Homo sapiens: one gene and its partners. The protein of the gene in region 1 interacts with the protein of each later gene in a pairwise test. Each region holds a gene or a part of one and is shown in the gene's direction. Other genes may lie near its edges.

Region 1 (3,652 bases):
AACCTCAGATGATCCGCCCGCCTCAGCCTCCCAAAGTGCTGGGATTACAAGCATGAGCCACCGTGTCTGGCTAATTTTTGTAGTTTTAGTAGAGACAGGGTTTCACCATGTTGGCCAGGCTGGTCTCGAACTCCTGACCTCAGGTGATCCGCCCACCTCAGCCTCCCAAAGTGTTGGGATTACAGGTGTGAGCCACTGCACGTGGCCTGTATGTAACTGATTTTTTCTCCATTATTTCTGGGTTCCTATTTCTTCCTTTTAATCAGTATCTCTCTGTTATCTGCCCCCCTTGGGCAACTGTCCCCTACGCGCTCTCTGAATCCTTGTCACCCCCCTGCCCCACCCCCTGACCCTGGGTGTGACGACTGCAGTGTGGCTCTGACCAGCCCCCTGTCTCCTTCCTGTCTCCTGCTTGCCTGCTGTGTCTGCTGATCTCGGAGTCCCCTCTTCCTCTAGCTCTTGTCCCCTGACCTGGGAGTTCAGCTTCCCCCTCCTGCCTTGCATTTGGGAGCCCTGTCTTCTTTATGGCTGGACACCCCATCTACTGCTCATTCAAAGGACATTTCCTGGGCTGGGCGTGGTACCTGTAATTCCAGCACTTTGGGAGGCTGAGGCGGGTGGATCACTTGAGCTCAGGAGTTTGAGACCAGCCTGGCTAACCTAGTGAATCCCTGTCTCTACTAAAAAGTACAAAAATTAGCCGGGCGTGGTGGCAGTCGCCTGTAATCCCAGCTACTTGGGAGGCTGAGGTAGGAGAGTTGCTTGAACGCAGGAGGCTGAAGTTGCAGTGAGCCAAGATCGTGCCAATGCACTCCAGCCTGAGTGACAAGAGGGAGACACCGTCTCCAAAAAAAAAAAACAAAGGACATTTCCTTTCTCCTCAGACCCTGGTTTCTGAGACCATCCGCCGATTTGGCCGCCTGGATTGTGTTGTCAACAACGCTGGCCACCGTGAGTTGTGAGACCCCAGGGCCATTCTCCACCTCCTGCCCCCCAACTCTGTTTCCTGCACGTCAGTTTCCCCACTCCCTGCCCCTGATTCCCTCATCCTGCCTCATACCTCTTTCTAGCCACTTGGACAGGAGAGTAAAGCAATGGAAGCCCCCCAGGCCTGTGCTGAAACTGTGGCCCTGTTCCATCCCTCCTGTGTGTCCCCAGGGCTGTGCCCTCACTTGGCCATGTCTCTCTTCTTTTCTTTTCTTTTTTCTTCTCTTCTCTTCTTTCTTTTCTTTTTTTTTCAGATGGAGTCGCACTCTGTCGTCCAGGCTGGAGTGCAGTGGTGTGATCTCAGCTCACTGCAACCTCTGCCTCTTGGGTTCAAGCGATTCTCCTGCCTCAGCCTCCCAAGTAGCTGGGATTACAGGCGCCCACCAGCACGCCAGGCTAATTTTTATATTTTTAGTAGAGATGGGGTTCATCATGTTAGCCAGGCTGGTCTTGAACTCCTGACCTCAGATGATCTGCCCACCTCGGCCTCCCCAAATGCTGGGATTACAGGCATGAGCCACTGCACCCGGCTTTTTTTTTTTTTTTTTTTCTGAGATGGGGTCTCACTCTGTCGCCCAGGCTGGAGTGCAGTGGCTCGATCTAGGCTCACTGCAACCTGCACCTCCCAGGTTCAAGCAATTCTCCTGCCTCAGCCTCCTGAGTAGCTGGGAATATAGGCACCCGCCACCACACCCAGCTAATTTTTGTATTTTTCGTAGAGACAGGGTTTTGCCCTGTCAGCCAGGTTGGTCTTGAACTCCTGACCTCATGATCCGCCTGCCTCAGCCTCCCAAAGTGCTGGGATTACAGGCGTGGGCAACTGTGTCCAGCCCCCGTCACTTTTCCTCTCTCTCTCACCCCCCACTTTAGACCCACCCCCACAGAGGCCTGAGGAGACCTCTGCCCAGGGATTCCGCCAGCTGCTGGAGCTGAACCTACTGGGGACGTACACCTTGACCAAGGTGAGGGCTGGCGACCCTGCCGCCAGGCCCGAGCAGCCTCCTGATAGGTGGATTGTGTGATGCATTTTGTCTAAGAGCAAAATGTTTTCCGTTCTTTTTATTTGTTTGTTTGTTGGAGACAGGGTCTCTCTCTGTCGCCCAGGCTGGAGGACAGTGGTGTGATCTCAGCTCACTGCAACCTCCACCTCCTGGGTTCAAGCGATTCTCGTGCCTCAGCCTCCTGAGTAACTGGGATTACAGGTGCGGGCCACAAAACCAGCTAAATTTCATAATTTTTGGTAGCTATGCTTCTGACTGCAAGTGATCTGCCTGCCTTGGCCTTCCAAAGTGCTGGGATTACAGACTTGAGTCACCACGCCTGGCCATCTATTTTCTGTTATTTAGTTTAATCTCCTTATTCCAAAAGGAAGATAAATGACTGCGAATCTCTACATCCAGCAAATCTACCTTTGTAGCTACATAGCCCAGTCTTAGGAACCTTCTAGAACCTTCCAGACTGGTGGTGGTAGGAGGGGATGTTAAGAACATATTGGGGCCAGACACAGTGGCTCACACCTTTAATCCCAGTGCTTTGGGAGGTCCTTGTGGGAGGTTCACTTGAGGTCAGGAGTTCAAGACAGCTGGGGCAATACAGCGAAACCCCCCATCTCTACAAAAAGTTTAAAAAATTAGGCGTAGTGGTGCCCTTGTAGTCCCAGCTACTCAGGTGGCTGAGGTGGGAGGATCGTTTGAGCCCAGGAAGTCAAGGCTGCCATGAGCTATGTACACACCACTGCATACAGCCTGGGCAACATTGCAAGATGCTGTCTCAAAAATAAATAAATAAATAAATAAATAAATAAATAGGCCAGGTCCAGTAGCTCACAGCTGTAATCCCAGCACTTTGGGAGGCCGAGGCAAGAGGATCCCTTAAGCCCAGGAATTCGAGACTAGCCTGGGCAACATAGTGAAACCCTCGTCTCTACAAAAAATACGGAAATTACCTGAGCATGGTGGTGCGCCTCAGGTACTTGGGAGGCTGAGGCGGGAGGATTGCTTTGTTGTAACCGAGCGAGTTATAGAGAAACGCCACACTCTGAGACAAGATCAGGAGTCCTTTATTAGCCGGCAGCCCAGAGACGGCTAGCGCTCAAAATTCTCTCGGCCCCGAAGAAGGGGCTAGATTTTCTTTTATACTTTGGTTTAGAAAGGGGAGGGGGGAGTCTAGTTAAAACAATCTTACAGAAGTAAAGCAGGCAAAAAAAGTTAGAAAGATAAATGGTTACAGGAAAGCAGACAGTTCCAGGTGCAGGGGCTTTAAACACATCCCAAGGTGATAGACGCTGGACGTTGGGCGCTATCAACCAGACAGAAACGCGGGGGCTTAGGGTACTATTAATCGGGCGACTGCCTGGGAACTGCGGATATAACTTGCCACAGTATCTTATCAGTAATTGCATTCTTTGATGTGCTGGGAGTCAGCTTGCACAAGTTAAGTCCTTGAAGAAAGGGGGGTTGGGTTAAGGGGCTGCAAGTGAAGGAGCCAGGATGGAGTCTGTCTGGCTCGCTCACCTAAGGGAGAGTCAATTCAGGTTAAAACAAGGTTAGGGTATCACAGCTTGAGCCCAGGAGGCGGAGGTTGCAGTGAGCTGAGATCGTGCAACTGCACTCCAGCCTAGGTGACAGAGTGAGACCTTGTCTCAAAAAAAAAATAATTCATTAAT
Region 2 (3,652 bases), on another chromosome or scaffold:
CACCTACTTTTTTGGAGAACATTTGCTCATGTTATTAAAAGTTCCTAGCAAACATGTAACTGTAGAATACCATGAATTTTGGTACATTAAATGTAAAATAACTACATAAATTTGTGATAAATCACATCTCTTAAACTAAATTCAAGAATAGGCTAGTGGTGGCAGATGCTGATTAAGAAAAGTTTGAGGGAAAAGCTTGACATTTAAATTGTTTTATCGATTAACTTACTTTTCTCCATGGTTGAAAAAAGACTGCCATTGTCAGATTTTAGCAAGACACCTCAGTCTAGCCTACAGAACTCTATATTCCACTCCTTCTAGAATCTTGTCTTAGATTGTTGGAAAGCTTCTTGGTTTTTAATTTATAGAAGCTGTCTTAATTCTCCCCTCCCCTGCAAAAAAAAAAAAAGTATATATTCTTATACATTAGAAGAGATTCCAGCCTTTCTATAGCTTTCTGTTGAAAATTCACTTTTCTGAGTTGAAAAACAAAACCCCCTTTTTTCCTACACATTTAGACATGAAATCTTTCTGAAAGTGATGAGTTTATACTTTGGAATTACAGTATCATAGTTTTTCATTTGGAAGAGTAAACAGTTGGGTGTAAAACTGGACAACTGTTTGGCTTCAGAATTGTTTATTTCTGTAGTTTTAAGGATACCAGATTGTGTTTGTCTTGTTTGAGTCTCTGTGTATCTAAGCCTCTGTGTTTGTGATAGTTCGGAATTTAGAAGCCTTTGAGGGGTTTGAAAGTAAAGATAACTCTTACAGTTTATTACCAGTATTTTAATTTTAGAGAAACAAAATGTGGTGTTTAAAGTTTTCATTTGGCAGGAATAACAATGGCATTGTTGCTCCCTGGGTGCTAAGTGAGGAGGCAAGGAGGAAGTGTCTTTCCATAGTACAACTGTTTGTTGTCCAAGTGCTTTCCTTCTCATGACTTTCTCCACTATGTTCTTAGGACTCAAACAGAGTATTGTTCAGTTGTTAGTATTGGCAGCTTGACAAATTGCTATTTTTTGGGTACTATTTGTTAAATGAATGATTACTTAGCTGGGTAGCTGTAGTGGAACTTGTTTTAGAAAAGAGGCTGTAGATAGGACATGATTTTGGAAGAGGATCTGTAAATCATAGCCCTTAGGCATGGAATGGCCTATAAGGTCTGGACCTTGTAGTAAGGTGGTTAGTGTATCACCGGCTCCACTTGTTGAAGCAGCTGAGGCCCAGGGAAGTTTGATGACTCTCCTGAGTCAGCCAGCTGGTACATGGGGAATAGAATCCTTGTTTGCTGCCTCTCAAGAAGGTAATATGGTTGAATATGCCCTCATGCTGTCCCCCGTGGTCTTGGAAGAATCCTGGACTATTAGAGTTGAGTCTTTACCTCTGTGTGCACAAAATATTTCCATGGATGATCTGGCATGAAGCATCATTGTTTTAGACGAACTAAGTTCATTTTTGAAAGGTCTTGACTCGTGTTGTTGTTTTGACAGCAATTGCTTGTTCAGAGCTCTTGGTGATCAATTGGAGGGACACTCACGAAATCATCTCAAGCACAGACAGGAGACAGTGGACTACATGATAAAGCAGCGGGAAGATTTTGAACCCTTTGTAGAAGATGACATTCCTTTTGAGAAGCATGGTAGGTTCACTGTGGGACATTGTGTCCTTCAGGAGTAATGCATTGGGTAATTAAGTCCACTGGCATCCTCCCCCCTCCCAGCCAAGGGTTTGGTTATATAAATCACGACATTCATTTATTCAAGAAATATTTGTTTGCCTACTTGGTTATCGGCAGTATGCTAGGTAGTTGGGGATCAGTAGGTTTAGCTGTATATGCCCTTAATAAACATGATGGTATTAATTGACCTGAAAAGCGATTCATGACTTCTTACTCTGTGGGGTGGGAAAAGCAGGCTATAACATAGCTTGTATAGGTTGATCCTATTTTTAAAAGGTATACAGACACAGTAGGAAAAGTCTGGAAAGATACTAACATTTTGTTTGTTAATTCTTAGCTTCACTTATTTTTCAGAAATTACTCATTCTCTTTAAACTTCTATAGAAGGGAGATAATAATAGCATCTATCTCACAGGGTTTTTGGTGAAGATTAAATTAGATAACAAAATTAAAATAAGCCCTTAGTAAGCGTTAGCCATCTGGGGATGATGGGACTATGGTATTTTAAATTATCTTTTATAGACTTTTTCTGACTTTTAGATGATCATGTATTACTTTTAAAATTAGAAAAACCAATAAAATCATGTTAATTTCTCACCCAAACCCCAAACACAATCTGTTTTCTTTGAGGCAAGTCAGTTAGTGATTTTAATTGGTTCCTATTTAATAGGCATAGATCTTATAGAAAATGCATATGAACTTGTAAACTTTAATTTCAACAAATATTTACTGAGGATCTACTGTGCTTGCTGCTGATATGTCTTACAAATGGCATTTTCATCACAGGGCTTATAGTCTTTTCTGTCTGTTATCAGGAAAGAGAATTGATCCTTTGTTTTAGAGAGCTAAGTCTGGAGGCCATGCCAAGAATGGATGGGGAGAGAGACTGATAAAGGAGACTAGTTAGAAGGTCTCCACACTGGCCAGATGAGAGTAGAGGAGGTCTCCATCAAGGTAGCTACTGAGGATAATGAGTAAGGCCCAAACCAAGCCACACTTTGGCAGTATAATTGACAGGACACATTGGAGGTGAGGAGGGGAGAGGGAGGAGACAAGAGTGATTCTGAAGTTTCTGCTTAGGGAATGGGTAATTGGCTGTACCGTTAGCAAGAGAGAGGGCAGCAGGAGGGGGACATTTGGGAGAAAAGGTATCAGTGATCCCAAAGTGTTTCCCATTCCTTACTAGGAAAGAACTTACTCAGTAGGCACCAGACACAGAGCAACAAAACTTCCAATGGGTGGTTTGTACCAATCACTGAGTTCAGATGGTCCCTCTTCCTGGGATTACTTTTTGGCTAGCAGATATGCATAGTTTACTGGATAGTCAGCAGTTTACAAATTAAATGTTTGTATATGGGACAAATTTTGTAGTTTAGTGCTGTACGAAATGAATTGTGTCATTAATCCAATGAAAACATCATTTTGGATGAAACGGGTTTTTAGTTTGTGATGTGAAACTCCACTTTGAACACTGTCAGTGAAGATCACATGGTGGATTTTGGGGTGTTACAGGATAGGGAACTCAAATCTTCGGTTGCCAATGTGATAGTCACTTGAGATGAACAGTGGAAAGGTGTTTTCTTGAAATGTCACTATGCATGCCTGTTGCTTGGAGCTGCTTAAGAATTTGAGCATCACAGAAGTAAGAAGTCACTTTGACGGCCAGAGCAGAAATGAAAAGAAACCTGGAAGTCTGCACATTCTCTTTGTGTGTCAGTTGAAGGCTTGGCTTGTTACATTGGTGAGTCTTGAGTCATAGTTACCTGTTTTTAATGTCAGTGTGCTGCCTACCTTGTTGTACTGTGAGATTCTCAAGGGCAGGGACTGTGTGTCTTTGTTTTGCGGTGTGGCAGTGCCCGGCATCTGGTAGACATTCATAAAGTGAATAAATGAATGGTTCACTATACTATTAAGGACCTGGTCACCCTTGCATCTGGCTGTATCTTTAGGATTATTCTTTTCTTTTAGACTGTG
Region 3 (3,652 bases), on another chromosome or scaffold:
ACGAATTGTGGGAGTAGGGAGAAGATCATTAATTTGGGGCAGATTGACCTTAAATGTTGATGTAGTACCAATTTATTACATGTGACCAGTGTCCCTGTGCTAATGATTTAGTCAGTACATTAAATATTTATTTAAGTAGATAATTTGAGAACTAGAAATATAAATCAGCACGCCTGCATTTTCTGTTTCTCTTTGCAAATGACATATTTGAAGTGATGCCATTTTCTGAGAAGAAAGATGCTTCATGCAGGGAGGAATATTGAGCTATAACATTTTACTGTATTTCCCATCTTGGAAATAAATTAAACTCTCATTGAAATAAAGGTTCTTATTATATTTTTCTTAAATTCTAACCGTATTTTTACATCCTTATTCTTGTTAGCAGATTGCTTTTTGTATTAATCTGTTCTCACACTGCTATAAAGAAATACCCAAGGCCTGGTGTGGTGGCTCATGCCTGTAATCCCAACACTTTGGGAGGCCAAAGCGGAGGATTGCTTGAGCTCAGGAGTTCGAGACCAGCCTGGGCAACATGGAGAAACCCCATCTCTATAAAAAAAATATAAAAGTTAGCTGGGTGTGGTGGCACACACCTGTAGTCCCAGCTACTCAGGAGGCTGAGGCAGGAGGATTGCTTGAGCTTGGGAGGCGGACTTTGCAGTGAGCTGAGATTGCACCACTAAACTCCAGCCTGGACAACAGAGCAAGACCCTGTCTCAAAAAAAGAAATACCTGATACTGGGTAATTTATAAGAAGTTTAATTAGCTCATGTTTCTGCAGGCTATAGGAAGTATAGCGGCATCTGCTTCTGAGGAGGCCTCAGGGAGCTTTTACTCACAGCAGAAGGCAAAGCGAGAGCAGGCCATCTTACATGGTGGGAGCAGGAGCAAGAGAGAGTGAGCGGGGAGGTGCTGCACACTTTTAAAACCAGATTCCACAAGAACTCAGTCACCATCACAGAATAGCACCACAGGGATGGTGATAAACCACTCATGAGAAATCTACCCTTATGATCCAATCACCTTCCACCAGGCCCCACCTGAACACTGGGTACTATAATTTGTTATGAGATTTGATGGAGACACAGAACCAAACCATATCACTTTTTAAAACCATAATAGTTATGCTGAGAAGTTATTTTTTGTCATAGTGCAAGATAACATGTCTTTGCTGCTGATACATTGGGTAATTCAATTTCATTTAGTGATCATAATAACCTTATTATTTTTTTCTTTTTTCAGTCACGGAACAGCAAATTTCTGAGAAGTTGAAGACTATCATGAAAGAAAATACAGAACTTGTACAAAAATTGTCAAATTATGAACAGAAGGTATGATTATTCTTTGTTTTTTTTTTTTTTCATGGTCCCAGCTTGAATTATTTGTCACCTATCTTATAGTTCAGTTACTATGGTATTTTTAAATAGTATTTATTATTACATTAATTCCTATAAACCATCCAGATCTTAAGCAGTCATATGTGTAAAGTACTGTTTTCTTCTGTAAGAGGTCAGTCACTTGAAAATAAGTTCTGGTAGCACTATACTTTATATTTCTGGATTCTGAATGCTTTATTTTATATAGATCAAGGAATCAAAGAAACATGTTCAGGAAACCAGGAAACAAAATATGATTCTCTCTGATGAAGCAATTAAATATAAGGTAAAAACTTCTTTTGGGGATTACATTTTAAAACAAAAGTAAAAGTAATGAGTATAACTAACCTTAATATCTTTTTTGTAGGATAAAATCAAGACACTTGAAAAAAATCAGGAAATTCTGGATGACACAGCTAAAAATCTTCGTGTTATGCTAGAATCTGAGAGAGAACAGAATGTCAAGAATCAGGACTTGGTAAGAGTTTTGCTGCTAAGTATTACTAATAATTTGGGTTTTGAACTCTTTTGTAGATTGAGTTGAACTCTTTATTTTCCATGCTGTTATGTGAAGTAAGAGTGCGAGTCAGGGAAGTTGAACCTACTTCTGTCCATTTTTGTGGAATTTTAAGTACTTACACAAGAAATTATTCTTACAGGCCTAGGAAGTATTTTGGTTCTCAACCCTAGGTAATTGTCATATTGCTTGGCTCTGCCCTCCGAAACATGTGGAACAACTAAGAAACCCAGTTGAACAGTCCTTGTGTTTTGTTTTGTTTTGCAAAGTTTTTTTTTTTTTTTGCTATAAACATTTTATTTTATTAATAGAATAGTTTTAGAATGACCTAAAAGTTGCAAAGATAGTAGAGAGGGTTCCATAAATCCCACACCCTATTAATCTTGATGACCTCGTTGAGGTAGTATTGCCAGGTTTCTTCACTGTAAAATTACTTTTTTTTTTTTTAAACTTTTTGCATTATTGTACTCTTTGGAAGGAAGTTACTATCGCAGCCCACAGTTAAAAAGTGAAGGGTTATGCTCCATCCTCTTGAGGAGCCAGAATCTTCATAAATTATCTAGAATTCTATATGGGTGATCTGTCTATTCTCACTCCAATCCTACCATTTTTAATTTAGGCAAGAGCAATTGGTGTTTGACAAAACAATTGTCAAATTGTACTAAATTAAAGTACCTTGGGGATTATTTTTTTCTCTTGCCACAAGAAAAAAAAAAGTCACATTGATTTGAACTGGTTTACTTAAAAGTTTTTTCAGTTTCTTTTCTTTCACCTTTTAGTCTGGTCATCTACCACATTTTATTCTAACCAGGAAGGTTGTGTATGCTGTGAAATATTTATGCCTTTGATTATTTTCCCTTACCTCTTTAAGTTCTTGATTTTTCCCGAGGGCAAAACTGAAACACCTGCTTTTACCTGAAACATAGGGGATGGCTCTGGGACATACTTTGTTGATGTTTCTTCTTCTTAGTATGTATCCCAGTGTTTCTACTAAAATCCTAATATGCATTTTGTGTTCTGTTTTTACATGGCAGATATCAGAAAACAAGAAATCTATAGAGAAGTTAAAGGATGTTATTTCAATGAATGCCTCAGAATTTTCAGAGGTAAAGCTGACTGTAATTCCTGCAGGATATTAATACTATATCATAGTTTGATTGCAGAGCAAAAATTTGATATATGCTAAAATGTGCAAAAAATGAAAACTACATGATGTTGGGTTGGAAAAGTAACTTTTTCTGGTTTTCTTTGGAATTAATTCACTAATAGGAGTGTTTTGCATTAGGTTCAGATTGCACTTAATGAAGCTAAGCTTAGTGAAGAGAAGGTGAAGTCTGAATGCCATCGGGTTCAAGAAGAAAATGCTAGGCTTAAGAAGAAAAAAGAGCAGGTAAAGGAAAGTGCGTGTCCCAGGTCATGTAAAATAGAGAACTCAGTATCATACCTCATGAATGCCTTTACTCAGATCTATTTTTAGGGTAATATATGTGCAGGATTCTGTTCTTAGATATGCAAAGTTTAAACTATGCTTCCAAAATTGAGTGTAGGTATACATTCTCTATCTGTTCTGGATTTTCTGTTCTGTACAATTTATTTTGGCTATCAGAGTGTGTAGTCTTGTTTTGTCAGACACCAATTGCTATTAACTTGAGTAGCCTCGAGTGGGTAGTAGATTGGCTTTTTAGACCCAAGAGTTAGATATTTTATAACCCTCCTTTGAGTAGTTACTGCTTCACTAGCCAAGGGAAGGTTACATGAT

Evidence for each region.
Region 2: the proteins of HSD17B14 (region 1) and OTUD3 interact in binary tests that used the Homo sapiens proteins (3 or more experiments, as listed by UniProt).
Region 3: the proteins of HSD17B14 (region 1) and MIA3 interact in a two-hybrid assay, tested with the Homo sapiens proteins (one large-scale study listed by BioGRID and IntAct).

The regions. Positions count from the first base shown.
Region 1 is NC_000019.10:48,829,965-48,833,616, reverse strand, and holds part of HSD17B14 (L-fucose dehydrogenase), read left to right. Parts: intron 1-884; coding exon 885-951; intron 952-1,857; coding exon 1,858-1,949; intron 1,950-3,652. UniProt on the Homo sapiens protein: Catalyzes the NAD(+)-dependent oxidation of L-fucose, yielding L-fucono-1,5-lactone, which rapidly converts spontaneously to L-fucone-1,4-lactone. Can also act on D-arabinose and L-galactose, with lower catalytic efficiency. Does not use NADPH.
Region 2 is NC_000001.11:19,888,895-19,892,546, forward strand, and holds part of OTUD3 (OTU domain-containing protein 3), read left to right. Parts: exon of another isoform or gene 1-1,265; coding exon of another isoform or gene 1,266-1,303; intron 1,304-1,309; exon of another isoform or gene 1,310-1,490; coding exon 1,491-1,639; intron 1,640-3,652.
Region 3 is NC_000001.11:222,649,050-222,652,701, forward strand, and holds part of MIA3 (transport and Golgi organization protein 1 homolog isoform 1 precursor), read left to right. Parts: intron 1-1,242; coding exon 1,243-1,331; intron 1,332-1,584; coding exon 1,585-1,662; intron 1,663-1,743; coding exon 1,744-1,854; intron 1,855-2,927; coding exon 2,928-2,999; intron 3,000-3,178; coding exon 3,179-3,283; intron 3,284-3,652.